Homo sapiens: one gene and its partners. The protein of the gene in region 5 purifies or fractionates together with the protein of the main gene of each other region. This does not show direct contact. Each region holds a gene or a part of one and is shown on either strand. Other genes may lie near its edges.

Evidence for each region.
Region 1: the proteins of DENND2D (region 5) and TPP2 purify together in Homo sapiens (affinity purification with mass spectrometry; 3 studies listed by BioGRID and IntAct, with this or other methods). This does not show direct contact.
Region 2: the proteins of DENND2D (region 5) and CWC22 purify together in Homo sapiens (affinity purification with mass spectrometry; 3 studies listed by BioGRID and IntAct, with this or other methods). This does not show direct contact.
Region 3: the proteins of DENND2D (region 5) and COIL purify together in Homo sapiens (affinity purification with mass spectrometry, with the first as the bait; one large-scale study listed by BioGRID). This does not show direct contact.
Region 4: the proteins of DENND2D (region 5) and NOLC1 purify together in Homo sapiens (affinity purification with mass spectrometry; 3 studies listed by BioGRID and IntAct, with this or other methods). This does not show direct contact.
Region 6: the proteins of DENND2D (region 5) and GRPEL1 purify together in Homo sapiens (affinity purification with mass spectrometry; 3 studies listed by BioGRID and IntAct, with this or other methods). This does not show direct contact.
Region 7: the proteins of DENND2D (region 5) and RTF1 purify together in Homo sapiens (affinity purification with mass spectrometry; 3 studies listed by BioGRID and IntAct, with this or other methods). This does not show direct contact.

What each region holds. Positions count from the first base shown.
Region 1 is NC_000013.11:102,603,486-102,606,985, forward strand, and holds part of TPP2 (tripeptidyl-peptidase 2), read left to right. Parts: intron 1-1,307; coding exon 1,308-1,436; intron 1,437-3,500. UniProt on the Homo sapiens protein: Cytosolic tripeptidyl-peptidase that releases N-terminal tripeptides from polypeptides and is a component of the proteolytic cascade acting downstream of the 26S proteasome in the ubiquitin-proteasome pathway.
Region 2 is NC_000002.12:179,972,798-179,976,297, reverse strand, and holds part of CWC22 (pre-mRNA-splicing factor CWC22 homolog), read left to right. Parts: intron 1-2,495; coding exon 2,496-2,664; intron 2,665-3,051; coding exon 3,052-3,105; intron 3,106-3,500. UniProt on the Homo sapiens protein: Required for pre-mRNA splicing as component of the spliceosome. As a component of the minor spliceosome, involved in the splicing of U12-type introns in pre-mRNAs. Promotes exon-junction complex (EJC) assembly.
Region 3 is NC_000017.11:56,954,551-56,958,050, reverse strand, and holds part of COIL (coilin), read left to right. Parts: intron 1-3,500. UniProt on the Homo sapiens protein: Component of nuclear coiled bodies, also known as Cajal bodies or CBs, which are involved in the modification and assembly of nucleoplasmic snRNPs.
Region 4 is NC_000010.11:102,155,389-102,158,888, forward strand, and holds part of NOLC1 (nucleolar and coiled-body phosphoprotein 1), read left to right. Parts: intron 1-1,630; coding exon 1,631-1,686; intron 1,687-1,797; coding exon of another isoform or gene 1,798-1,800; coding exon 1,801-1,940; intron 1,941-2,042; coding exon 2,043-2,167; intron 2,168-2,660; coding exon 2,661-2,826; intron 2,827-3,500. UniProt on the Homo sapiens protein: Nucleolar protein that acts as a regulator of RNA polymerase I by connecting RNA polymerase I with enzymes responsible for ribosomal processing and modification.
Region 5 is NC_000001.11:111,190,647-111,194,146, reverse strand, and holds part of DENND2D (DENN domain-containing protein 2D), read left to right. Parts: intron 1-1,829; coding exon 1,830-2,007; intron 2,008-3,081; coding exon of another isoform or gene 3,082-3,140; intron 3,141-3,500. UniProt on the Homo sapiens protein: Guanine nucleotide exchange factor (GEF) which may activate RAB9A and RAB9B. Promotes the exchange of GDP to GTP, converting inactive GDP-bound Rab proteins into their active GTP-bound form.
Region 6 is NC_000004.12:7,065,265-7,069,395, reverse strand, and holds the start of GRPEL1 (grpE protein homolog 1, mitochondrial precursor), read left to right. Parts: upstream 1-1,331; 5' UTR 1,332-1,363; coding exon 1,364-1,425; intron 1,426-2,769; exon of another isoform or gene 2,770-3,216; intron 3,217-4,131. UniProt on the Homo sapiens protein: Essential component of the PAM complex, a complex required for the translocation of transit peptide-containing proteins from the inner membrane into the mitochondrial matrix in an ATP-dependent manner.
Region 7 is NC_000015.10:41,462,095-41,465,594, reverse strand, and holds part of RTF1 (RNA polymerase-associated protein RTF1 homolog), read right to left. Parts: intron 825-3,500; coding exon 710-824; intron 1-709. UniProt on the Homo sapiens protein: Component of the PAF1 complex (PAF1C) which has multiple functions during transcription by RNA polymerase II and is implicated in regulation of development and maintenance of embryonic stem cell pluripotency.

The DNA of each region.
Region 1 (3,500 bases), on a different chromosome or scaffold from region 5:
TGGAACAACTGAAGAGATAAAGAATTCTAGGCAGAAGGAACCTGTTTAAAAAGTCATGAGGCAGGAAAAAGTTTGGCATGTTTCAGGAATTGAAAGGAGGTTGGCGTGGTTAGACTCCTGAGTAACGGGGTGGCAGGGGTCAGATGGTGCGAGGCTTTTTATGCGAGTATTCTGAGTGCTCCATGAATACATTGATGGGCTTAAAGGAGAGGACTGATAAAATACAGCTTGTTTTAATACAGGTTGAGTATCGCAAATTCGAAAGTCTCCAATGAACATGTCCTTTGAACTTCATGTCCATGATTTTGGAGCATTTGGAATTTTCAGGTTAGGGTCACTCAGCCTGTATTACTTTTGATGGGGCCAAGAGTGGAAACTGAGGGACCACTTAGGTAATTCACCTCATGGAGGCAAGAGATGGTGGTGGTTTGGAAAGTTAGGATAGTGGTAGTGAAAATGCAATGGATTTGAGCTCTCTTCTAGACAAAGAATTAACAGGATTTCCTGTTAGCTTCGCTGTGAGGAGTCAACTGAAGTAAAGAATCAGAGGAGGATTGTTAAGTTTCCAGTGTGAACAGCTGGGCGTGGGGATTCCTGGGATGGCAAAGCCTGGAGAAAATCAGGTGGTGGGGGGCATGTTAAGCTTGAACTTTGTTGCGTTTGAGGTGCTAGTGTGGCATCCAATAATGGTGCCATTAAATGGTACCATTACTACTAAACATTTTTTCCCCCTAAAGCTCTAAACTTGTCCAGCCCACAGCTCACCATCTTTAGATCTTTTCTCAAATGTTACCATCTCAGCAAGGCCTTCCTTGACCAGCCAAACTTATGTTGAAAACCCCACACTGACCATCTCCCTTCCCTGCTTAATTTTTCTCCATAGTTAATTTTCACCATCTGACATGTTCTTTTTTTTCCCTAATACCCAGTGTGATAGCACATCTGACATGTTCTTTATTTTACTTTGTTATTAACTGAACTGCTTTCTCGCTATAAGATCGTCAGGGATTTTTGCGTATGGATCACTGCCATATCCCCAGCACCTAAAATAGGGTGTGGTCTATAGTAAATGCTCAGTAAATATTTGTTTATTGAATATATGAAACGACTTGAAGGATTCTGTAGTGTTTCCACGATTAAATTTTCTTACTAGTATTTGTTCAGGCTTTTGGCTTAAAACAGTTCAGTTCTCTTTTTTAAGTGAATGTAGATTTTGTATATACACACACATATATATGTGGATTTGCATTGTTTAGGAATAAAAACCTAAAATCTACCATTCATATTTTAATTTTCTTAATTTTCAGGTTACAACTGATGGAAAACCAAAAATCGTTGATATCATTGATACAACAGGAAGTGGCGATGTGAATACTGCTACAGAAGTAGAGCCAAAGGATGGTGAGATTGTTGGCCTTTCAGGAAGAGTGCTTAAGGTGAGACCTTTTGTCTTCTTTTTGAATTTTTTTTTTTTTACTCTTGCCTCAAAGCATCTAATGTTTTTACCTTACATTTGGTGGTGGTATTAGTTATCCATTGCCACATATCAGATTACCTCAGAACATCCTGGTTTAAAATGACAAATATTTATTACCTCGGAGTTTCTGTGAGTCAGGAATCTGGGTGTGGCTTAACGGGGTTCCAGTCGCCCTGGAGGTTGCAAATGGTTAGCCATGGCTGTGACTTCAGCTGAAGGCTCAGCTTGGGAGAAGAAGGGGAAGTTTGTTTCCAAGCCTACTGGTGGGTCACTGGCAGGCCTTGGCTCCTTGCCATTGGGCCTCTCCGCAGTGCTGCAGTACCTGGCAGCACCTTCCCTGGGGGAGTGAGCCGAGAGAGTCCCCACGATGAAAGCCACAGGCTTTTTATAAAAGTGACCTTCTAAGGGACCACCTATCACTTGACTATATTGAGCTCATTGGAAGTGAGTTAATAAATCTAGCACACACTTAAGGGGAAGGGATTTCACAAGAAATGAATCATTGGAGCTGTCTTAGAAGAAGCCATTATTTTGTTGTTTGATGAGGTAATTAGAATTGGGCGGTATTTTTCAGTGAGCTTGCCAAATTTTATGTTTTGAATACAAAGATAGAGAAAGTAACCACATCATAGCTTTGCCTTCATGTTTTACTGTCCCTTCATAGTATTCCCAGTTAACTTGACCATGAAGAAATACTTAGGCTATAGTAGCTGTTAACTTAAATGGCCAGCTTTGTCTTTTTTTTTTTTTTAAACTTCTTTTTTTCTTTTTTTTTTCGAGACATAGAGTCTTGCTCCGTTGCTCAGGCTAGAGTGCAGTGGTGCAATCTTGGCTCACTGCAACCTCCGCCTCCCGGGTTCTAGCAATTCTCCTGCCTCAGCCTCCCAATTAGCTGGGATTACAGGTGCCCGCCACCACGTCCAGCTAATTTTTGTATGATTAGTAGAGACAGGGTTTCACCATTTTGGCTAGGCTGGTCTCGAACTCTTGACCTTGTGATCCGCCTGTCTCAGCCTCCCAAAGTGCTGGGATTATAGGCGTGAGCCAGGGCACTCGGCCTACCAGCTTTGTCTTATTCTATGTCCTTGGTAGAAAGGCCTGGGTAAGCTAAACGTAAAAAATAATTATAAAGCAAGCACAGAGGAGCTCATGAGCTAAGGAGCATGAAGGATGGATGGCAAGAATTTGTGATCCTGTACTCTTAAGCAGCATTAGTTTGGAACATAAAATTATGGTTATTTAGTTAGCTTTTCCCACCTTTTGCCATCTATCTGAATTGTTCTTAGGTCTTGTCTTTTAAGTAAGCTTGTTGTGGCAGCATATTGGCTTTCTGTGCCGTGTAATAAAGCACCACAGACTTAGCCGCCTAAAACCTTGTGTATTCCTGTATTTATTATATCACTGATTCCATGGGGTAGGAGTCCAGGCATGGCTTTTTGTGGGTCTCTGCTCAGGGTCTCACAAGACTGCAGTCAAGATTAAAGGCTCAGCTGAGGCTCAGGCTTCTTTTCCAAGTTTACATGATTGTTGGAAAAATTCATTTCATTGCAGCTGTAAAACTCATGATAGCTTGCTTCTTCAAGGCCAGTAAGAGAATCTCTGACCTTGGTGATGACCCCAGTCTTTCTTTTAAAGAACTCACCTGATTAGTTCAGGCCCGCTGAGAATCATGTCACTTTTGATTTGCTCAGAGTCCTTAATTGCGTCTGCAAAATCCCTACACCTTCTTTACGTACCATAACGCAATCATGGGAGTGACATCTCATTATATTCACGGGTCCTGCCTTCACTTAGGGGAGGGACGTGGGTCTTCTTAGAAATCTGCCTGTCATGGGCAGATAGCAGCCATTAATAATCCAGGTTCTACTTCCTTTTCTGTGTGTTAGGAACTGATTATCTGTGTCCCCACCCCCTGCCAAAATTCATACATTGAAGCCCTATCCCTCTTTGTGTTGGTATTTGAAAGTTGGGCCTTTGGGAGGTATTTAGGGTTAGATGAGGTTATGAGTATGTGTCCCCTCAG
Region 2 (3,500 bases), on a different chromosome or scaffold from region 5:
AGTTTCACAGTTTCAGGTCTAATGTTTAAGTCTTTAATCTGTTTTGCGTTGATGTTTGTATATGCTGTGGGACTAAGGTCTATTTTCATTCTTCTGCATCTGGGTATTCTGTTTTCTTGGCACCATTTATTGAAGACACTGTCTTTTCCCTATTGTGTCTTCTTAGCATCTTTGTCGAAAATCAGTTGACTGCCAATGTCTGGATTTATCTCTGGTTTCTTTGTTCTCTGTAGCTCTATGTGTCTGTTTTTATACTATTGTCATTCTGTTTTGATTACTATAACTTTGTAGCAGATTCCAGGTCAGGGAGTGTGATGCCTCCAGCTTTGTTCTTTTTGTTCAAGATTGCTGTGGCTATTTGGAGTTTTTTGTGGTTCCATGTGAGTTTTAGGATTGTTTTTTCTATTTCTGTGAAAAACGTAACTGGAATTTTGATAGGGATTGAGTCCAGTCTGTATGTTGCTTTGGGTACTGTGGACATTTTAACATATTATTTCAGTCCATGGACATGGGATGTCATGCATGTTCTTCCATTTTTTCATCAGCAATTTGTAGTTTTTAGTGTACAGCTCTTTCATCTCCATGGTTAGATTTATTCCTAACTTTTTTTTTCATAGCTATTGTAAATGGGATGTTTTCTTGATTTTTCAGAAAGATAGTTCATTGTAAGCATATGGAAGCACTACTGATTTTTGTATGTTGATTTTGTGTCTGCAGCTTTACTAAATTAGTTTATTAGTTCTAACAATTTTTTGGTTAAGTCTTTAGGGTTTTCTATATTAAGATCCTGTTTACAGCAAACAGGCTTCTCTATTTTTGATTTGGATACCTTTTATTTCTTTCTCTTGCCTAATGGCTCTGGCTAGGACTTCTAGTACTATGTTGAATAGAATTGGAAAGAGTAGGCACCCTTTTCTTATTCCTGATCCTAGAGGAAAAGCTTTCAGCTTGTCACCGTTGAGTATATTAGCTATGGGTTCGTCATATATGGCCTTTATTCCAATTTAATTTCTAGTGAGAGTGAAATGGGAATGTGAGAGAAATGGGAAAGATGAGCAATACATTTTAGAAAAGCAGAAGGGAATCACCGTATTCTATAAGAATATGTGGCTTTAAGCAATTGGTGATATTTAAAAGGGTCAGAAAATAGAATTACTCCATGTTGTATTTATTATTTTAAAATCTGAGGGCTGTTTTCTCATGTCATTTTACATGACTATGATTCATCTTTAAAAAAATATGGAATGTAGTGGCCAGGCACGGTCGCTGTAATCCTAGCCTGTAATCCTAGCACTTTGGGAGCCTGAGGCAAGAGGACCACTTGAGTCCAGGAGTTGCCTGGGCAACATTGTGAAAACCTGTCTCTATGAAAAATACAAAAATTAGCTGGGCGTGGTGGCACACAGTAGTCCCAGCTCCTCCGGAGGCTGAGGTGGGAGGATTGCTTGAGCCCAGGAGGCAGAGCTTCCAGTGAGCCAAGATCGCCCCACTGCACTCCTGCCTGGGTGACAGAGTGAGACCCTGTCTCTCCCCAACCTCTCCAAAAAAGGTGGGGGTATAAAGTAGGAGCAGCAAGTTTTAGAGGTAGAGAAAGTTGATCAAGAGACAGCCATTATCCTCAAAAGTGGGCAGAGATCTCTCCAATTTACTTAGAAAAAAAGTAGACTTAGAAGAGTTATGGATTGCTAAAGATACTATAATTTATAAGCTGCATCCTTTTTCTTATTTTCCACTCTAGTGATTCAGTTGTCATATCTAAAACTACCATTAAGACTTTTTTTCCTGACTTTTGGCAATCCAATAATTACTTGTCATTACATTGCTAAAAGTAACTTTAGTTTGCCCAATTTGCCTTTCCCCTTCCTCATCAAATGCATATAGAAACATGACCATTTTCAAAATGAGTTACAAGTAGGTACCTTTTAATTTCCTGTTACTGTTTTAGCATTAATCTGGCATTGCTTTTAATTCGTTTCTTTATTTCTCACAGGAGTATTCCACATCTTCATTTTATTCTACTAAAATTAGACTTAAAGATTTAAACCCAAATTTGTCTTTAATCACAAAATTAATTTTATAAAAATGACAGATCTGTAGTAGAAACTTTATGTTATCTACCTTTTATACTTTTGAAGCAGGTCTGCTTTTGTTTACTTTTTAAAAAATGTTAAAGAAATTATTTATATGAACCTTTTTAAGGTTCAAATTCATGATTAGATATAACAGACTGGGAAAAGAGGAATTATATGTAGAGAGAAAAATTTTGGTGATAAATTGCAGTAAAATCTTCATTCTATTTTACAAAATCACAAATTCACATTTCGTTTTCTGAAAAACAATTTTTATTTATTAGTAAGACAAACTCTTTCCAGTTAGTTCTGATTTAGATTTTATGATTACTTATAGAGAAATATTACTGAATTTTAATAGTTTTTGTTTCGTTTAATTAATTTGGTGATTATTGTTGACTCCTTTTTAAATTCTTTTTTAAACAGAGGACTGCTGTCCAGGTCTGTTTTGCAAGCACAGAGTGCTTCTCCAATCTTCACCCATGTTTATGCAGCATTAGTGGCAATTATCAACTCAAAATTTCCACAAATTGGAGAATTAATCCTCAAAAGGTTAATTCTTAATTTTCGAAAAGGCTATCGAAGAAATGACAAGGTATATATGAATGGCTTGTAAGTAGAATGATACATAGGAACAAACTAACAAACCAGTATCAACAAAAGTAAGCAAGGTTGATTTTGACACAGCTACATAACATAATGCTTTTTAAAAACTGTCTTTCATGAGAACTTCTTTGATCTGTTAAATATCCCTGGCCACTATTGATGAGCCACAAAAATGATGGCTATAACTGTAGAACTATAACTATTTAACCAGAAGGGATACTCTTTCATGTGTTTTATTTTGTAACTTTCTTATAATGTAAAAATTATACTTGTGTGGTACATGTTTTAAATAGATGATGTTAGTAGGCCATAGATTATGTAAATAAATGAAAATTGGGTTTAGTTTATAGGTTAACTTTCCACCTTTATTTTTCAGCAACTTTGCCTGACTGCTTCAAAATTTGTGGCGCATCTTATTAACCAAAATGTGGTAAGTAATTATCTTCAATACTTGGTCCCATTCAGTGGCATTAGACCAGAGGGTTGATGCCACTTCACTGATACCTCTCTATTTTTGCTTTGCTTTATAGTCCTTGGGATAAAAATGTTGGATGATATTTTCATTTTAAAACTATAATAAATATATTTAATGTTCTTTTTTTTTTTCTTTTTTTGAGATGGAGTCTCACTCTGTCGCCCAGGCTGGAGTGCAGTGGCACAATCTTGGCTCACTGCAAGCTCTGCCTCCTGGGTTCACACCATTCTCCTGCCTCAGCCTCCCGAGTAGCTGGGACTACGGGCACCTGCCACCACGCCCGGCTAGTTTTTTTTGTATTTTTAGTAGAGACGGGGTTTCACCATGTTAGCCAGGATGGTCTCGATCTC
Region 3 (3,500 bases), on a different chromosome or scaffold from region 5:
CATTCTGTTGGGATCATTGGCAGTACTGAGAAGGCTAATGAGGAAAAGTGGAACTAGGTTGTGGGAATCCTGAGAAACAGCCTTTGAGGCTTTGGATGCACCACACACTTGTGTTCCACTGCTGTTTCCTCATAGCCCATTCTCTTAAGCCCCAGGAATCTGGCTTCATCTGCCCCCAGGTTTCTGACAGCGAGTTCCTAAAGGTGGTCTCTAACTGTCCTGGGAGGAGGAGGAGGTGCTTCTATTGGCTTGGAGCCCCCTGTGTTAGTTTGCTGGGGCTGCTATAACAAAATACCACAGACTGTATGGCTTAAAAAATGGAAATTTATTTCTTACTCTTCTGGAGACTACAAGTCCAAGATCAGGGTGTTGGCAGATTTGGTTTTTTTATTTTATTTTAATTAATTAATTAATTTATTTATTTTTCTTGAGACAGAGTCTCACTCTGTTGCCCAGGCTGGAGTGCAGTGGCACGATCTTGGCTCACTGCAACATCTGCCTCCCAGGTTCAAGCGATTCTCCTGCCTCAGCCTCCCGAGTAGCTAGGATTACAGGCACCCGCCACCATGCCAGGCTAATTTTTTTGTATTTTTAGTAGAGATGGGGTTTCACCATGTTGGCCAGGCTGGTCTCGAACTTGTGACCTCAAGTGATTTGCCCTCCTCAGCTTCCCAAAGTGCTGGGATTACAGGAGTGAGCAACTGTGTCTGGCGGTTTTTAATTTTTTTTAATTAATTTTTAAATTTTTTTTAATCGTGCAGCCCTCAGAATTACAGTAGATTCAGAGAGACTCCCTTATTTTTTGAGACAGGGTCTCACTCCATTGCCCAGGCTGGAGTGCAGTGGCGCAACCTTGGCTTATACAGCCTCGAACTCCTGAGCTCAAGGGCTCCTCCTGCCTCAGCCTTTTGAGTAGCTGGGACTACAGGTGCAGTTTTTTATTTTTAGTAGAGAGGTCTCACTAAGTTGCCCAGGCTGGTCTCAAACTCCTGGGCTCAAGTAGTCCTCCCGCCTTGGCCTCCCAAAGTGTTGGGACTACAAGCCTGAGCCACTGCCCCCGGCCTGAGAAACTCCCTTTTGAAGAATCAATTCTGTAAGGAAACAGTGCATTCTGTCTTCCCTGACCCTTTTAACTCTGGCAATTAATACTTGATGAAGGCTGGGCGCCATGTCTCATGCCTATAATCCAGCACTTTGGGAGGCTGAGGCAGGCAGATTGCCTGAGCTCAGGAGTTCGAGACCAGCCTCGACAACATGGTGAAACCCCATGTCTACAGAAAAATACAACAAAATTAGCTGGGCATGGTGGCACATGCCTGTAGTCCCAGCTGCTTGAGGGGCTGAGGTGGGAGGATCATTTAAGCCTGGGAAGTAAAGGCTTCGGTGAGTTGAGATGGTGCCACTGCGCTGCAGCCTGGGCGACAGAGTGAGACCCTACCTCAAAAAACAAACAAACAAACGAACAAAAAAACACATTGATTAAATGTTAGAGATGGGCCAGGCATGTTGGCTTATGCCTGTGATACCAACACTTTGGGAGGCCGAGGTGGGAGGATCACTTGAGTCCAGGAGTTTGTGAGCAGCCTGGGCAACACAGGGAGACCCTTATTCTACCAAAAAAACCCCAAAAAACAAACAAAAAAAATTAGCTAGGCTCAGTGATGGATGCCTGTAGTCCCAGCTAGTTGGGAGGCTTAGGTGAGAGGATCACTTGAGCCTCAGAAGTTGAGGCTGCAGTGAGCCATGATCGTGTCACTCCACTCCAGACTGGGCAGCAGAGCAAGACCGCATCTCAAACAAAACAAAATATTAGAGACGAGTTCTCATTTCATATTGCTGTAGTTAGTGGCTCCTTGGATAGTCCAAGATAAAAAGTTTCCTACTACTTTTATCATATACTTTTTCCCACACCTCACTCTCCAGAAGTATCCTTGGTTAAGTTTGGGGTATGGGGTATATCTTAGAGCCAGATTTCTATACATGTGCAACCATATGTACTTATACTTTTAAACTACAAATATCATAACATACTGTTCTGCACCTTGCTTTTTTACCTATCATGGGCTATCTCAGTATATAAAGTGTGTGATGTATGTCATTCTTTTCTGTTTGCTACATAGTGCTTTAGTGAATATTCTTGTATTTTTTTTGTACTTGGAAAATTATTCAGTTGGATTTATTCTTAGAAGAAATACTCATTGGTCTAAGAGAAGGTACATATAAAAATTGATAAGTACTGTCAAATTAGCTTCCAGAAAAGTTGTACAGACTTGTACAACTTTTAAAAATTCACCAACTTACCCATGATAGGACTAACAACATTCATTGTACTAATAAAAATTAGAGCTAACATTTGGATATCACTTGTTCTGAGTCAGGCATGCTCTCTCTGCATAATAAGTCACTGAGTACTGTAATTATTGTCATTATCCCCATTTTTATAGATGAGAAAGGCTGAGGTAATGATTTTAAAAAAAATTACAGTGGCAGAAATAGCATTTGAACCCAGGCATTCACGTTGGCCTTGGCAGGCAATGGGTAGGGAGCATCAGGTTGGACAGATGGGCATGTCAGTGTTTCTGCATAACAGAATCCTAGACAGTAAATTGTAGATTTTAAGGGTGGACTTAGATTTTGATAATACCACTCAGTTTGCCTTGCAAAGAGTTAGAATGAAAAGTGGGGATAGCTGGGCATGGTGGCTCACGCCTGTAATGCTAACACTTTTGGGAGGCCGAGGCGGGCGAATCAGCTGAGGTCAGTTCGAGACCAGCCTGACCAACGTGGCAAAACCCCATCTCTACTAAAAATACAAAAAGTTAGCCAGGCGTGGTGGCAGGCACCTGGAATCCCAGCTACTTGGGAGGCTGAGGCAGGAGAATCGCTTGAACCCAAGGGGAGGAGGTTGCAGAGAGCCCAGATCATGCCACTGCAGTCCAGCCTGGGCGACAGAGCAAAATTCCATCTCGAAAAAAGAAAAGTGGGGATCTGTTTTTTGGAATCAACTCTTTCGTCACTAGTGACCTAGGTAATTCACTTCTACTTGTGAAAGGACAAATGCATGCACTTTTGTTTGTAAAAGGATAGCTCTATTCTTTGTCTGTGATCCAGGTAAAGAAATAGAGAATATTGCCAGGGAAGGTGCACCTGACAGGAATGGTAACTAAGCAGACCCAGGAGAACCATTTCTTTTTCTCTGGATGGTATTTTGCCTCTCAATCTTAATATTTTCTTTTTTTTTTTCTTCCCAGATGAGGGCTCACTGTGTTGCCCAGGCTAGTTTTGAACTCCTGGGTTCAAGTGATCTTCCCTCTGCCTCCTGAGTAGCTGGGATTACAGGCATGTGCCACCACACCAGTTTATAATCTTAATATTTTAAAAACTGAAATTATTCTCTTGGGGAACAGTAGGTAGTGGGGCTGCAGGAATCACAGGTCATACCTTCAAGCCAAATAGCTGTAGATGCATGGTCTTTTTTTTTTTATTTTTTGGAGACAGAG
Region 4 (3,500 bases), on a different chromosome or scaffold from region 5:
AAAAAGAGAGAGAGAGAGAGATGGAGGTCTCACTGTCTTGCCCAGGCTGGTCTTGAACTCCTGTCCTTAAGTGATCCTCCTGCCTTGGCCTGCCAAAGTGTTAGCGTACCTGCGCCCGGCCTGAATGCATTTTTTTTTTTTTTTGAGACTTACTCTGTCGCCCAGGCTGGAGTACAATGGTGTGATACTGGCTCACTGCAACCTCAGCCTCCTGGGTTAAAGCGATTCTCCTGCCTCAGCCTCCTGAGTAGCTGGGATTACAGGTGTGCACCACCATGCCCAGTTAATTTTTTGTGTTTCTGGTAGAAATGGGGTTTCACCATGTTGGCCAGGCTGGTCTCAAACTCCTGACATCATGATCTGCCTACCTCGACCTCCCATAGTGCTGGGATTACAGCAGACCTGAGCCACCGTGCCTGGCCCTTAAATGCAGTTCTTTACATTCAATACAGTACTTACTAGTCTTGTTTCTTTCTTTTTTTTTTTGAGACAGAGTCTTGGTCTGTCGCACAGGCTGGAGTGCAGTGGCGCGATCTCAGCTTACTGCACCCTCCGCCTCTGGGGTTCAAACGATTCTTCTGCCTCAGCCTCCCGAGTACCTGGGATTACAGGCGCCTGCCACCACACCCGGCTAAGAGACAGGGTTTCTCCATGTTGGCCAGGCTGGTCTTGAACTCCTGGCCTCAGGCGATCTGCCCGCCTTGGCCTCCCAGAGTGTTGGGATTATAGGCGTGAGCCACTGCATCCCGCCTGGAGGCTTATTTCTAATGATTTGGTATTATAATCCACATTGCAGGAAAAACCTTCTTGTATTAGTGTTTGTACCCTCAAGTAATGGATAAGATTACATTCTTAGATAGTACATTGCTAGAGTAAAGAGAGAGCCTTTTTTTTGGCAGAGGGGTAGAGATGGGGGTCTTGCTATGTTGCTTAGGCTGGTCTTGAACTCCTGGCATCCAGTGATCCTCCTGTCTCAGCTTCCCAAAGTGCTGAGATAACATGAGATAACAGGCATAAGCCACTGTGCCCAGTCAAAAGTGATTTTTTTTTTTTTTTGAAATGGAGTCTTGCTCTTGTTGCTCAGGCTGGAGTGCAGTGGCGCGATCTCCTAGGTTCAAGTGATTCTCCTGCTTCAGCCTTCTAGGTTCAAGCAATTCTCCTGCTTCAGCCTCCCAAGTAGCTGGGACTACAGACATCTGCCATCATGCTGGGCTAATTTTTGTTTTAGTAGAGATGGGGTTTCACCATGTTGGCCAGGCTGGTCTTGAACTCCTGACCTCTTGATCTGCCTGCCTCGGCCTCCCAAAGTGCTGGGATTACAAGCATGAGCCACCGTGACTGGCTGATTTTTTGTTTTGTTTTGTTTTAGGACTTTGATCAATATAGATTGGCAGGCAGGGGGTTAGATGGTTAGATGGTGCCGCAAACATAGGAGTAGCCCGTTTTTTACATCAGAAATTGGGAAATCCACAAATAGAATATTTTTCTCCTGATTTATGCACGTAGCAAAAGTTTTATGAAGATGTAACATTTATACCAAATTTAGTAATTATGTATGTAACAGGCCACATTTAATGAAAGCATAACCAGGATAAAATAATTTCCTTACCCAGCTCTTTTTCTTCTACAGACACAGCAGGATGCCAATGCCTCTTCCCTCTTAGACATCTATAGCTTCTGGCTCAAGTAAGCCTTTCCTGTTCCATTTTGGCTATTTTCTCCCCCAAGATAGGCTGGGCTGTGTTTCTTGGTTTGGGAAGATTCCAGTCCCCTAGAAATTGGTCCAATCTACCTCAGCAGGTCTGCCAAGGTCCCAGAGCGAAAGTTACAGGCAAATGGACCAGTGGCTAAGAAAGCTAAGAAGAAGGCCTCATCCAGTGACAGTGAGGACAGCAGCGAGGAGGAGGAGGAAGTTCAAGGGCCTCCAGCAAAGAAGGCTGGTAAGGCAGAGTAGCAGGTGGGCTTGGTGGTGCCAGGAAAAGAATTTACAGCCTGCTTGTTTCACATGGCTGATTCTTACTGGGACCTGTGTGTTTGTTCAGCTGTACCTGCCAAGCGAGTCGGTCTGCCTCCTGGGAAGGCTGCAGCCAAAGCATCAGAGAGTAGCAGCAGTGAAGAGTCCAGTGATGATGATGATGAGGAGGACCAAAAGAAACAGCCTGTCCAGGTTTGCAGCTTTGGGAAGAAAAAGGGGTTTAAGGATTAGAAAGGAAGAAACCTAAAATCTTGGCCTCTAGCTTGTAACCAAGGGGTGATGGCGGCAATACAATAGGTGATTATGAGGAAGAAAATCTGGGGATTTTCAGGGAGCTGATAAAAGTATGAGGTCTGGAAGGGATGTGTGAGGTTGAGGTCAGGCTCCGAATCTAGAGGAAATTAAACCCATTCTGCTTGAGGAGTTTGGGTTCTTCTGGGACACTATTCAGGGCTCCAAGAATAAGAGAGAGTGTTTTCCTGGGAGCTTTGGCAGGATAAGGCAGGAACAGGGCCAGTGTATCAAGTGGCTGAACTTTGTTGTTTTTTGCCCTTTCCGTATCCTGTCCTTAGCTTTCTTTTGCTCTTACTGCTCCATTAGGCCCCTAAAAATAAAAGGAACCTAGGATGCCCTTTGGGTACCCGGAAGCTTTTGCTGATTTCTCTCCTTGTGTCTTTTCTAACAGAAGGGAGTTAAGCCCCAAGCCAAGGCAGCCAAAGCTCCTCCTAAGAAGGCCAAGAGCTCTGATTCTGATTCTGACTCAAGCTCCGAGGATGAGCCACCAAAGAACCAGAAGCCAAAGATAACACCTGTGACAGTTAAAGCTCAGACTAAAGCCCCTCCCAAACCAGGTACTGTTTCTGTTCCCAAGAGGCTGGGCTGGGGACCAGATTGCTCTGGGGACTGGAGTTAAAATTGCCGATTTGGCACAGGGGTGAAATGGTACTGTTTGTTGAACTGGAGGTGTTGATTACTGGTCTTTTAATTTTAAAGGTTTTACTAATAAATAACAAGATTTCATAGGAGCTAGTAAATAGAGAAAGTTATTGCAGCAAGAAAAAATGTGTATTTTTTTTAATGGTATCCATTTGGTATTTTGTGACATTTCATAGACATTTTATGTTTTCACACATCCCATTCCACTGTAATCACTTAAATATCTATTTGTTGTGCTTTTCACTGCCATTTTTACTCTTGTATGTTCATTCTATGAGACAAATGAGAATTTTTCTTTTTTTCTGTAACTTGTGATGAGGGTTAGGTTATTTCTCTGAATGGAGGTTGAAGTGAAAGATTTTAGAGGGCGTATTGAGATTATTTATGTCATCTTTTCTAAGAAGACAGTTTTATTCCTGCCATGGGATAGGAAAGGTATCCTTTGATGTGGTAAACCATGGCTGGCATTCTCCTCGATGGCTGCTCTAAAGTTGAAAGAATTGGTGGACTCCTGGCCAGGCACAGTGGCTCACACCTATAATCCCAGCACTTTGGGAGGCTGAGGCGGGCGGATTGCTTGAGGTCAGGA
Region 5 (3,500 bases):
ACCTGAAGGGGATGCGGAATTACATACTGGTTGAAAGCACAGGGATTGAAATCAGCAGAATTAGGAGGTTTAAATCCAGTTCTTCTACCTTTAGCTATGAGGTTCCCATTAAGTTAGTTTGTTAACTTCTTAAAAATGGAAATAATGATTGTGATTACCTCATAAGGTTGTGGTGAGGATTAAATGAAATAATGCACATTAGGTACCTAACACCCTGCTGAGCACATATTGCTGAGTGCTAGCTTCTGTTCTTAAGTTCACAGTTGAGTATATCCCTGTGTATAGTGGAAGCAGGGTACTATTGTGCCATGGTCTCTACCTTTTAGGGGCTTCAGATCTGAGAAGGACGTGGGGAGATGTAATAGAATGGAGAATGAAAGAAGTCATAAAACAGTAGGGGTAGGGGTAGACCTTCTATTCATATCTGGGGAGGGAGAAAACCAGTGATTTTAGGTTGACAACCCTGCTTTTATCTTTTAGGGAAGAAGAAAAGGATGTTAGGGACTCAACAGAAGTCAGAGGGGCAGGTGAATGCCATGGGTTTCAGAGGAAAGGAAACTTGGGCAAGCAGTGGGGTCTCTGTGTTGAAGATTCTGTAAAAATGGGTGATAACCAAAGAGGAACTAGTTGTAGGTAATCCTTGAAGGGAGTGGCATCATCTTTTGCTTTGGAAATAGCTCTTTCACTCCCAGCCTTGAATGGAAACCAGAAATTCCTGTGTGGCTAGAGCTGGGATTCTGCCTTTCCTCCTCAGATCAGTGTTTGGGAAGTGGAGGTCGGCAGGATTCACCTCTCAGACGTTTACTTTCTTCAGGGAAATCCCACCACTCCCCACTTCCTTCCCACACTGAGTTTTTCAGCTCCCTGAAGCTCGGACAGGGAGGGGACTTCCAGTCAGCTAGCCTCTCAGAGACTCAATTTTGCTAATTCAGGAAGTGCCAGCTTGAAACCCAGAACTGAAACAAGGATTCCCGCATCTGTGCTTTTATTGGCCTTGACTTTGAGGCAATTTGGCTGGAGTAAAGAAGAGCCATGAAAGCCAGGGGATAAAAGAGAAAGACAGAGAGTGGGACTGTGTGTATGTGGTGGCGAGAGGAGTAGGGTCCAAGTTGTGACTTGGGCAGGAGTGACGAGAAATGCTTCACTGGAAAGTCTTGAGGAGGCACCTTTGTGGGACTTTCCGTGTAGGAATTGCTGGGCAGAGGTTCCTAGAACCTGGGAATTTCCCAAGCTACTCAGGCAGCAACCTGGTAATCTTTAATAACCTCGAGTGTGCCCAGAGGGGGCTGTGTGGGGGCAAAGGCTGGGGATGAGGGTGGATAGACATAGCGAGGTAAAAAGGCTTTGCCTCTCGGCTGAGCCTCCAGTGCTTGTTTACATGTTTGTCTCTTAACTACACTGTGAATTCCTTAAAAGCAGGGTCAGTGTCTTACTCTTCCTGGTATCCACATCTGTGAGGTATGCTCACAGTTGTGAGCACAGGCTAGGGGCTCAATCAATTATCTCCTTGAATGAAAGCAACTCTTCTTCCCTCTTCTCTTCAGAGTCACTTTTATTTTTGGCCAGTAGTAAGTTGAGAAGACTAACTGGGAAAAGAAGGGTCAAATCAAGGCCCTTCTTGATAGTGAAGCCTCAGACTCTCTAGTTTCTGTCCCTCCCTCCCAGCAATGTACGTTCAAGCTCTGTGACCAGCATGGCCCCCAGACTTGCCTTTCTGCCCATGGGCATGGGCAGCACTGCTCTAGCTGCTGTTGGTGGTGGGCGATGAGGGGTGTGTAGCATGGTGGTGCAGGGGCCCCCTGACTCTCATCCTCTGTGCTCTGTCCCAGCACCTTGTCTCAGTGCATCCATGCTGCTGCCGCACTGCTCTACCCCTTCAGCTGGGCGCACACCTACATCCCTGTTGTCCCTGAGAGCCTTCTGGCCACCGTCTGCTGCCCCACCCCCTTCATGGTTGGAGTACAAATGCGCTTCCAGCAGGAGGTCATGGACAGCCCTATGGAAGAGGTATGATGTGGCAAGAAGAGTGCATGATTTGGAGCCAGGTAGAGTGGGATTCAGATCCCAGCTCTGCTGCTTACAGCTGTGTGATTAGGGGCAAGTTACCTTACCTCTTTAAGCCTGAGCTTTCTCATCTCTAAAATGGGGATAACAGTGTTCACTTCCTAAGGATTCTGGGGGAAACCACCTGCCTAGAGCTCCTAACCTGGCACCCGACACACAGGTGATGCTCAATAAATGCAGGTTCCCTTCTGAAGGATTCCCCTTTAGGCATAAGGGGCAGTGGATAGCTTATTCAGGGGTGAGCAGACTGTTCTGTGCCAGCTGGCCCTAATGAGCAGTCTTCGGGGTGTCCCATCTCATCCAAATGTATGACACAGCTGGTCTATACAACACACACCCCACTGGAATGTATTTGAATTCCTTGGAATTGAGCTAACATGGCCCTCTGGCAAACTATGAGTCTTAAAAATGCAGATTTTTGCAGCAAGTCATCTTTCTGAGTAGCTCAGAGCTAAGGTGGCTAATGAGGATATAGGTCTGAATCCTCTTTGATTTTGTTAGCTTCTTACATCTTGGCAGTGCACCAGACACACCAGAGAACTCAGTTGTGAAAATGGGCATTAAAAGCGTAAATCTATCCCCGCTGTTGGAAAAATAACTCAAAACATGTGCTTTAGAGTTGTCAGTATAGGGACTTTCAAAAGATAGTATGTTACTGTATCTCAAGCCAGAAGAGGGACTTGGGAATGTCTGCCCTGGCCATAACCATTGACTCACTCCAAGAGATAACTGAGCTCCAGAGACTTATCCAAGGCCACATAGACAACAGTGGAACCTAGCACAGATAAAACCAAATCCTCTCCTATAGAAACCATTGCTGCAAAGTAAAGAAGAAGGCTGTGTTTCCCTTCTTTGCTCCACCGGCCCCCTCATCCTTCCTTAGGACTGCTGAGTACACATGCCCTTTGAACCAGCTTTAGCCTTGTGACTAACTGGGACAGAGTATTAGCCCCATGTTTAGCAATAAACATTTAAATGTTCCAACCCCAGAAATTATGAAACTTCTTGACTCTGCAGCTCCAGCTCCCTGGAAGCCGTGGCTCCTCTCCTGATGGCCAGTCAGACTCTGGCTTTTGGTAAGGGATTACTCCACAGACAATAATATGCCCAAATACTGGAAAGATTTCTGGGAACAATCTTGAAAAACAAATTATTTATACACACTCTCTCCCCCCAATCCCTCAAAGGAACAGTCTTCCCTTCATGAAGGCATCTGAGCCTATGTATACAAGTGGTTTCAGGCCTGGACTAGTTCAACTTTTCTCCCCTGATGACAGATAATTACAGTGCATGCTCTATTTTTTGGCATACTTTCCACTCTCTCCTTGTATTTGGAAGAAGGGACAATGGAGGGATCATTCTCTCTATCAAGACCAAGGGTCACAAATGGAAAAGAGAGGCCCAGCGGGCATTTAAATGACCAATACATGATTTGG
Region 6 (4,131 bases), on a different chromosome or scaffold from region 5:
TGTTTGCGTCTTTCTGCAAGGGGCATATTACCTGGCAAACAGTAGGTATTAATCAGCATGGGTTGAATGGTTTCAATGGCAGAAAAGCAAAAGAATAAAGGTTTGGTCCTTTACTCAAGTGGTCCTACATTCACTAATGTAACAAGCAGGCAAAACTCCGCTTGAGAAGCCACCAGCTCGCGCCCTGGGATCCTGGGGAGGGCATGGGCTCCAGCCCTGGGATCCCGGGGAGGGCACAGGATCGAGCCCTGGGATCCCGGGGAGGGCAGGGACTCTAAGTCTGGGATCCTGGTGAGGGCACGGGCTACAGCCCTCAGATCTTGGCCGCCAGAACTGCACTCCAGGCCACGCGGTGCTGAAGCGGGAGCCAGGCCCTATCTCCTGCGGGAACCCCGCTTGGGGGCCGGCACCGGGGCCATAAGAACACGCGGCCCTCTGTTCTTGGGGGTATGCGCTACAGCAGCATGGACCTCGGTCAGGTTATGAAAACGTGTGCATTTATGAGCTTTAGTTGTGCCCCAATGTTTTCTATGCGCTGTTCTTAGTCTGTTTTTCGTGTTTTGAGAAAACTGAAGATAACAGAAAGGTACAAAACACACGCCCATATTCCCATCATCCAGCATCAAAACCGCCAACATTTCGTCCCATTTGTTTCCCGGGTTTTGTTTCCTGTTTCACCAGAAATCACTGGTGGAGACGGAGACCCCAGTGCCTTCTCTCCGCCTCGGGCGCCTGGAGAAGCAGCTTCGGGGTCGGGGCGCCCTCCCAAGCGGTTGCCTCCGCGGTTCTCAAGCAACTACGCCGCCGTTTGGGTGGCGCTCGCGCCGAGACTTCATTTTCATTTAGCAAACATGGAGTGCTCCGCGCCGCTCTGGAGCCGGGGTGTGAGGGTGAACAGGGCTCCCCACGCTCGTTCCCAGAGCAAAGGAAGGCCCGCGGTGTCAGCGCAAGGGCGGGTGCGGGCCGGGAAACGACAAGCTGCCGCCTCACTCCTACCCAAAACCAGGCTCTGAAGTCCCTCCCGGCCCGCGACGCGCGCGCCCCACCCCGGCGCTGGCCCCGCCCCCTCACGCTGCCTCCTCATTGGCTCCTCCCGGCATCGCCACGCCCACAGGAGGCTCCTCCCAATGCTCACTTCACCTTTCACCTCTTCAGGGCCTCCGGTACGCCTCAGGCCCCGCCCACCGGGGGGTGGGGAAAGATGCTCTTCCGTGACCCACAATTATTGGTGACTATTGCCTGTCCATAACAGGAAAAGCGATTACGGATTGGCTGAGGCGAAGTAGTAGGGCAGAAAAGTGGGTATAGCTGCCTGCACGCACGCTTGGTGCGTGCGCGGCGACTGCGACGGGCAGTGGCAGTCATGGCGGCTCAGTGCGTGAGGTTGGCGCGGCGCAGTCTTCCTGCTTTGGCGTTGTCTCTCAGGTAAGGGGCACTTGGTCTCCCTGGGTGGAGGTGGCAGCGCGACCTCCCGCTCCGATGGGGGCCTTTCCCGGCCCCGGGGCCTCCTTCCCGGCCTCGGCCCCGGAGCTGGGCATCTCCGGGCTCGCGGTTCCCCGCCGCGGGACGCGGACCGCCCCGCTGGGGCCTGCTCTGCTGCCAGGCTGCCAGCTCAGGGCTTGGGAAGCGTGGAGCGGGCGGGCGCCGTGTCAGGAGGAGAGGACCGCAGCGCGGGGGGCGTTTGGCTCGGAAGGTACGGTGGCCCACGTGCGCGTGTGGTCCAGGGCCTGCGGCGACGCCTCGCGCGCATTCACGGTCTCGGCGCTCACGGGCGCAGAGGCAGCCGCAACTTGTGCGGTTGAAGAAGCGACCAAAGAAGCTCGAGCTTTGTCCAAGGTCACGCAGCGAGGCCGAGCCGGGCCGGGTGTGCCCTGGGCAGGAGCTGTGGTTACTCATTTCCGTGCCGCAGCTCGAGGCCGGGGCCACAGCGGTGCTCGGGAAACTTCGTGTCGCAAGGTGCGTGTTGCCCGTTCACGGGCTTTTTCCACTCGACCTCGAATTCCTTCACTCCGCCTTCTCCAGCGTCTGAGGTCAAAAGAGCAGTCGAACCTGTGCTGCTGCTGGGCGAAGAGTTTGTTTAGACAAGGGCACATTTCGGGCCTGAGGGCCACGAGACAGTGCCCCTTTTTTTTTTTCCCCTCAAATCTGCCCCTTCTGCTTTTTGAAAGTTCTACTTTAGAAGTTAGTATGGCAAGTACTTGCTGGAGGAAGTGCCTAGAACCAAGTTATTGATTAGAGAAGCCACTGAGGGCCAAATTGGCCAAAAGCTGGGCAGTGAGATGTAGTTCTTTCCTGAAGGAGAGCAGGCAGGTGAGGTGAAGATCACTTTCAGTCTAGGTGATTAAGGGGTAAGTGCTAGCTTAATAAATTATATCTTAACAACACAGGAGCCAAGAGCAACGACCCACGTGGAATACTTGAGTAAAAAGACTTTGGTCAAGTAATTGGTGGTTTTGTATTGGAATTAATTGCCAGGAAAGTGACCACCAAGTCAGCATCATTTCTGTCTCTAGAATGGTAGTTTTGTGGAAAGATGCTCAACTAGGGAAAGGCAGGAGAACTGACTGGTAGTCATAGCTCTCAGAGTAACTAGGCTTTCTGAGACTCAGTTTCCCTCTGCAGAACGAGATGGCCCCGGGTGTGGGTCCTGTTGCACATTCCTGGCCACACTTTGTGTTGGCTGTGCTTCGGAAAGGGGTCTGTGAAGAGCTGACCTGCAGAAAGGCTGGTGGCTGTCACACCCCCAGGCAGAACAACTGGAGAGGAAGGTGGGCTTCACAACAGTACACTCAGTTTTTATTTAAATTCTTAGCTTTTTAAATTCACAAGAGTAAAAATATAAAATGGTCATCGCTCTCCACCCCCATGGCAAGACTGTAATGGAGGCTTCCACTCCACTTCTTTCCACAGATCTAAGATATTAATAAGTACACAGGATTTCTAGTTTGTCTTTACAAAAATAGGATCCTGTTTTGTGTATTTCTCTGTAAGTTGCATTTCTTAACAGAACATCCAAAGTGTATCCAATAAATGGCAGTTTAACTCATTTTTAGGAGCTGCATAATATTCCAGATTGTGTTAGCAAGTTTATTCAACCATTTGCTCGCTGACAAACATTGTTTCCAACTTGTCGCTCGCAGTGCTGCAATAAACAGCCTTGACTGAGTTCTGTGTGCTGGCAGCCTTCACCTTCCTATTCGTTGAAGCAGTTTTAATCTGGGAAGAAAATTGAATGTAGCTTATTCTCAGATAGGACTGTGGCCTAATTTAAAAAGAGGTCCTGGCCGGGTGCGGGCGGATCACGAGGTCAGGAGATCCTAGACCATCCTGGCTAACACAGTGAAACCCCGTCTCTACTAAAAAAATACAAAAAAATTAGCCGAGCGTGTTGGTGGACGCCTATAGTCCCAGCTACTCGGCAGGCTGAGGCAGGAGAATGGCGTGAACCCGGGCGGCGGAGCTTGCAGTGAGCCGAGATGGCACCACTGCACTCCAGCCTGGGTGACAGAGCAAGACTCCGTCTCAAAAAAAAAAAAAAAGAGGTCCTCTGGTCCTGGTGAAGAAATCTAGGTTTTAAGACTTTATTTTATCATTCGTTGATGGCTTTGTGACCTGGGCTTATCACTTGGTCTTGGTCTATTTCACCGGTACATATCCCATGCTTTCCTGTCTTCATGCCTTTGTCCAAGCAGTTTCATCTTCCTGAAGCTGCATCTATCCCATTGTCCCACCTCTGATCCCTTTTTCGTAACTCTTACCTATCCTACAAAGCCTTTCATGGTTTTCCATTCCCCAAGCTAGGTATCTCCTTCTACTCTGAGCCTCCCAAAGCACAAAGCACTTAGTTCCCTTTTTTTTTTTAATCACTTTTTTTTTTTTTTGAGACAGAGTTTCCCTCTTGTCGCCCAGGCTGGAGTGCAGTGGCGCGATCTCAGCTCACCTCAACCTGCGCCTCCCTGATTCAAGCGATTTTCCTGCCTCAGCCTCCCAAGTAGCTGGGATTACAGGCATGCACCACCACGCCAGGCTAATTTTGTATTTTTAGAAGAGACGGGGTTTCTCCATGTTGGTCAGGCTGGTCCCGAACTCCTGATCTCAAGTGATCCACCTGCTTTGGCCTCCCTAAGTGCT
Region 7 (3,500 bases), on a different chromosome or scaffold from region 5:
ATCTCAGCTCACTGCAACCTCCGCTTCTGAGGTTCAAGCAATTCTTGTGCCTCAGCCCCCCGAGTAGCTGGGATTAAAGGCATAAGCCACCACGCCAGGCTAATTTTTGTATTTTTAGTAGAGACAGGATTTCGCCACGTTGGCCAGGCTGGTCTCAAACTCCTGGCCTTGAGTGATCTGTCTGCCTCGGCCTCTCAAAGTGCTGGGATTACACATGTGAGTCACTGCAGTTGAGGGCTGCTTTTTAAATGCAGACTTCAGTGAAAGCCGGGCACGGTAGCATATGCCTGTAGTCTCAGCAACTCAGGAGGACTGCTTGAGACTAGGAGTTTGAGGCTTCAGTGTGTTATGACTGTGCCAGTGAATAGCCACTGTATTCTAGCCCGGGCAACATAATGAGACCAGGGAAAGGGAAGAGGAAGGGAAGGAGGAAGGGAAGGGGGAAGGAGGAAGGGAGGGGAAGAAAAGGGAAAAAGAAAGAAGAAAGAAAAAAGAAAAGGAAAAAGGAAAGCAAAGGAAAAAGTGCTAAGGATTTAACAGCACAGCTAATGGTGATATGTCCAGAGATTAATGAAACCATGTCACAAGTCTTATAAACTTAGGCTGATTAATATAAATCCACCTTTTACACACACACACACACACACACACACACACACACTCAAAACAGGTTTATTCTTTGGACAATGAGGAACACTGAATCTCCTACCTGAGATTCTTGAATCTGTGTCAGTTTTTTCTTTTCTTGCTCCTCTTCTTGCTTTTTCTTCTTTTCTTTCTTTTCTTTCTTTTTGGCTGTTTTTAGTTTTTTCTTGATTTCAAATCTGGTTAAAAGATATTTGGTTTTTAAGTAGCAATGAAATGTATATAAAAACTGATTTCTATTAGATAGGAGAAAGGAACTAAGGGAAAGGAGCTAATAGATATTTTGGCTTTCCTGCAAGAAACTCTGGTGTACCTTTTAAGTACATTAAAAATATTTAATATGTTAATTACAACAAAATATAAAATATTTGATAGCATTAAGTTGGAATATGTTTAAAATGAGAGACTACGGGCCAGGCACAGGGGCTCACACCTGTAATCCCAGCATTTTGGGAGGCCGAGGCGGGGGGATCAAGAGATCGAGACCATCCTGGCCAACATGGTGAAACCCCGTCTCTACTAAAAATACAAAAATTAGCTGGGCATGGTGGCGCACACTTGTAGTCCCAGCTACTTGGGAGGCTGAGGCAGGAGAATCGCTTTAATCCGGGAGGGAGGTTGCAATGAGCCAAGATCGCGCCACTGCACTCCAGCCTAGCGACAGAGCAAGAATCCGTTTCAAAAAAAAAAAAAGAGAGAGAAAGAGAACATATATAGGGTATTGCTGTACTCATCTGCGCCACTCTAGCCTGGGCGACAGAGTGAGATTCCATCTCAAAAAATAAACAAACAAACAAACAGGCCCGGTGCAGTGGCTCACACCTGTAATCCCAGCACTTTGGGAAACCAAGGTGGACGGATCACGAGGTCAGGAGATTGAGACCATCCTGGCCAAAATGGTGAAACCCCATCTCCACTAAAAATACAAAAATTAGCTGGGCATGGTGGCATGTGCCTGTAATCCCAGCTACTCGGGAGGCTGAGGCAGAAGAATTGCTTGAACCCAGGAGTCGGAGGTTGCAGTGAGCCAAGATCACGCCACTGCACTCCAGCCTGGCGACAGAGTGAGACTCCGTCTTGAAAACAAACAACAAACAAACAACAACAAAAAACACACAATGAAAGACCATTTCACACCCACCAGGATAGCTATTATCACAAAAAGGGAGGCCAGGCACGGTGGCTCACACCTGTAATTCCAGTACTTTGGGAGGCCAAGGCAGGAGGATCACTTGAGTCCAGGAGTTGGAGACTAGCCTGGACAACATGGTGAGACCCTGTCTCTACAAAAATTTTAAAAATTGGCTGGACATGGTGGTACATGCTTGTAGTCCCAGCTACTTGGCAGGCTGAGGTGGGAGAACTGCTTGAGCCCAGGAGATTGAGGCTGCAGCCAGCCATGATCATACCACTGAACTCTAGCTAGCCTGGGCGACAGAGTGAGACCCTGTCTCAACAACAACAAAAAAAGGAAAAGACAAGTGTTAAAGTGTTAGTGAAGAGGTGGAGAAACTAGTACACTTATTGCCGATGGGAAATCTAAAATGATGCAGCTGCAGTTTCTCAAAAAGTTAGAAAGAGTTACCGTACCAGCCAGCAATTCTACTTTCCAGTATACACTCAAAAGAACTGAAAATAGGTACTCAAATTGTTGTATATAAACGTTCACAGCAGCACCAGTCACAATAGCAAAAAGGAGGAAACACCACAAATATAAATCAACAGATGGACAGATAAACAAAATGTGGTATATACATAAAATGGAATATTACTCAGACATAAAAAGGAGTGAAGTACTAATACATGCTAAATGGATAAACCTCAAAAACATACTAAGTGAAAGAAGTCAGTCACAAAAGACTACATATTATGATTTCATTTATATAAAATATCCAGGTCGGCCATGGTGGCTAATGCCTGTAATCTAAACACTTTGGGAGGCCAAGGCAGGAGGACTGCTTGAGGCTAGGAGTTCAAGAATAGCCTGGACAACATAGCGAGACCTCTTCTTTAATAAAAGTTTAAAAAATTGGCCAGGTGGTGGCACACGCCTATAGTCCCAGCTACTTGGGAGGCTGAGGTGGGAGGATTGCTTGAACACAGGAGGTCGAGGCTTCAATGAGCTATAATCATGCCACAGCACTCCAGCCTGGGTGACAGAACGAGACCCTGTCTTGATAACAACAACAATAATAATAAACATATCCAGAATAGGCAAATCTAGAGAGACAGAAAGGAGATTAGTGGTTGCCTAGGGCTGGGAGGCTTATGGGGAAATACAGGAGTGACAAAATGCTCTAGAATTAATTGTGGTGATGATTGCACAACTCTGTGGACATATAAAAACCAATGAATTATACACTTTAAGTGGGTTATTTTAAACAAAGTTATTTTTTAGAGTTAGTGATAGTTTACATTTACATAATGTTCTTATGTATATAATCTCTCTTGAGGTTTACAACAACCCCCAGGAGGAAGCTGAGGCAGGAAGAGAAAGTGATTTAACTCCGATCACCCCTCCAGCGAGTCTGACTTGACCCCTAGACCTTCTAACTGCAATGTCAGTGCCCTTTCTACAACCAGGCTACCTTTTATGCTTCCTGCCCCCATGAATAATCTAACAACTGAAAATGACATCTCACTACTGGTGCTGCTGGCTAGAGAACAGGATGCTAATGGTGCTTACATAAAAAAGACTACAAAGATTAAATGCAATCCATATAAAGAGCTTTTAAAGTAAAAAAGATTCAGGAAATTCCAGAGTTTCCATATTGCACTGCCCTGAAGCTAAACAAACGAACTACTAAAATATCAATTTTCTATGATGGCTCTGAACCTCTGTCTTAATAATCAGC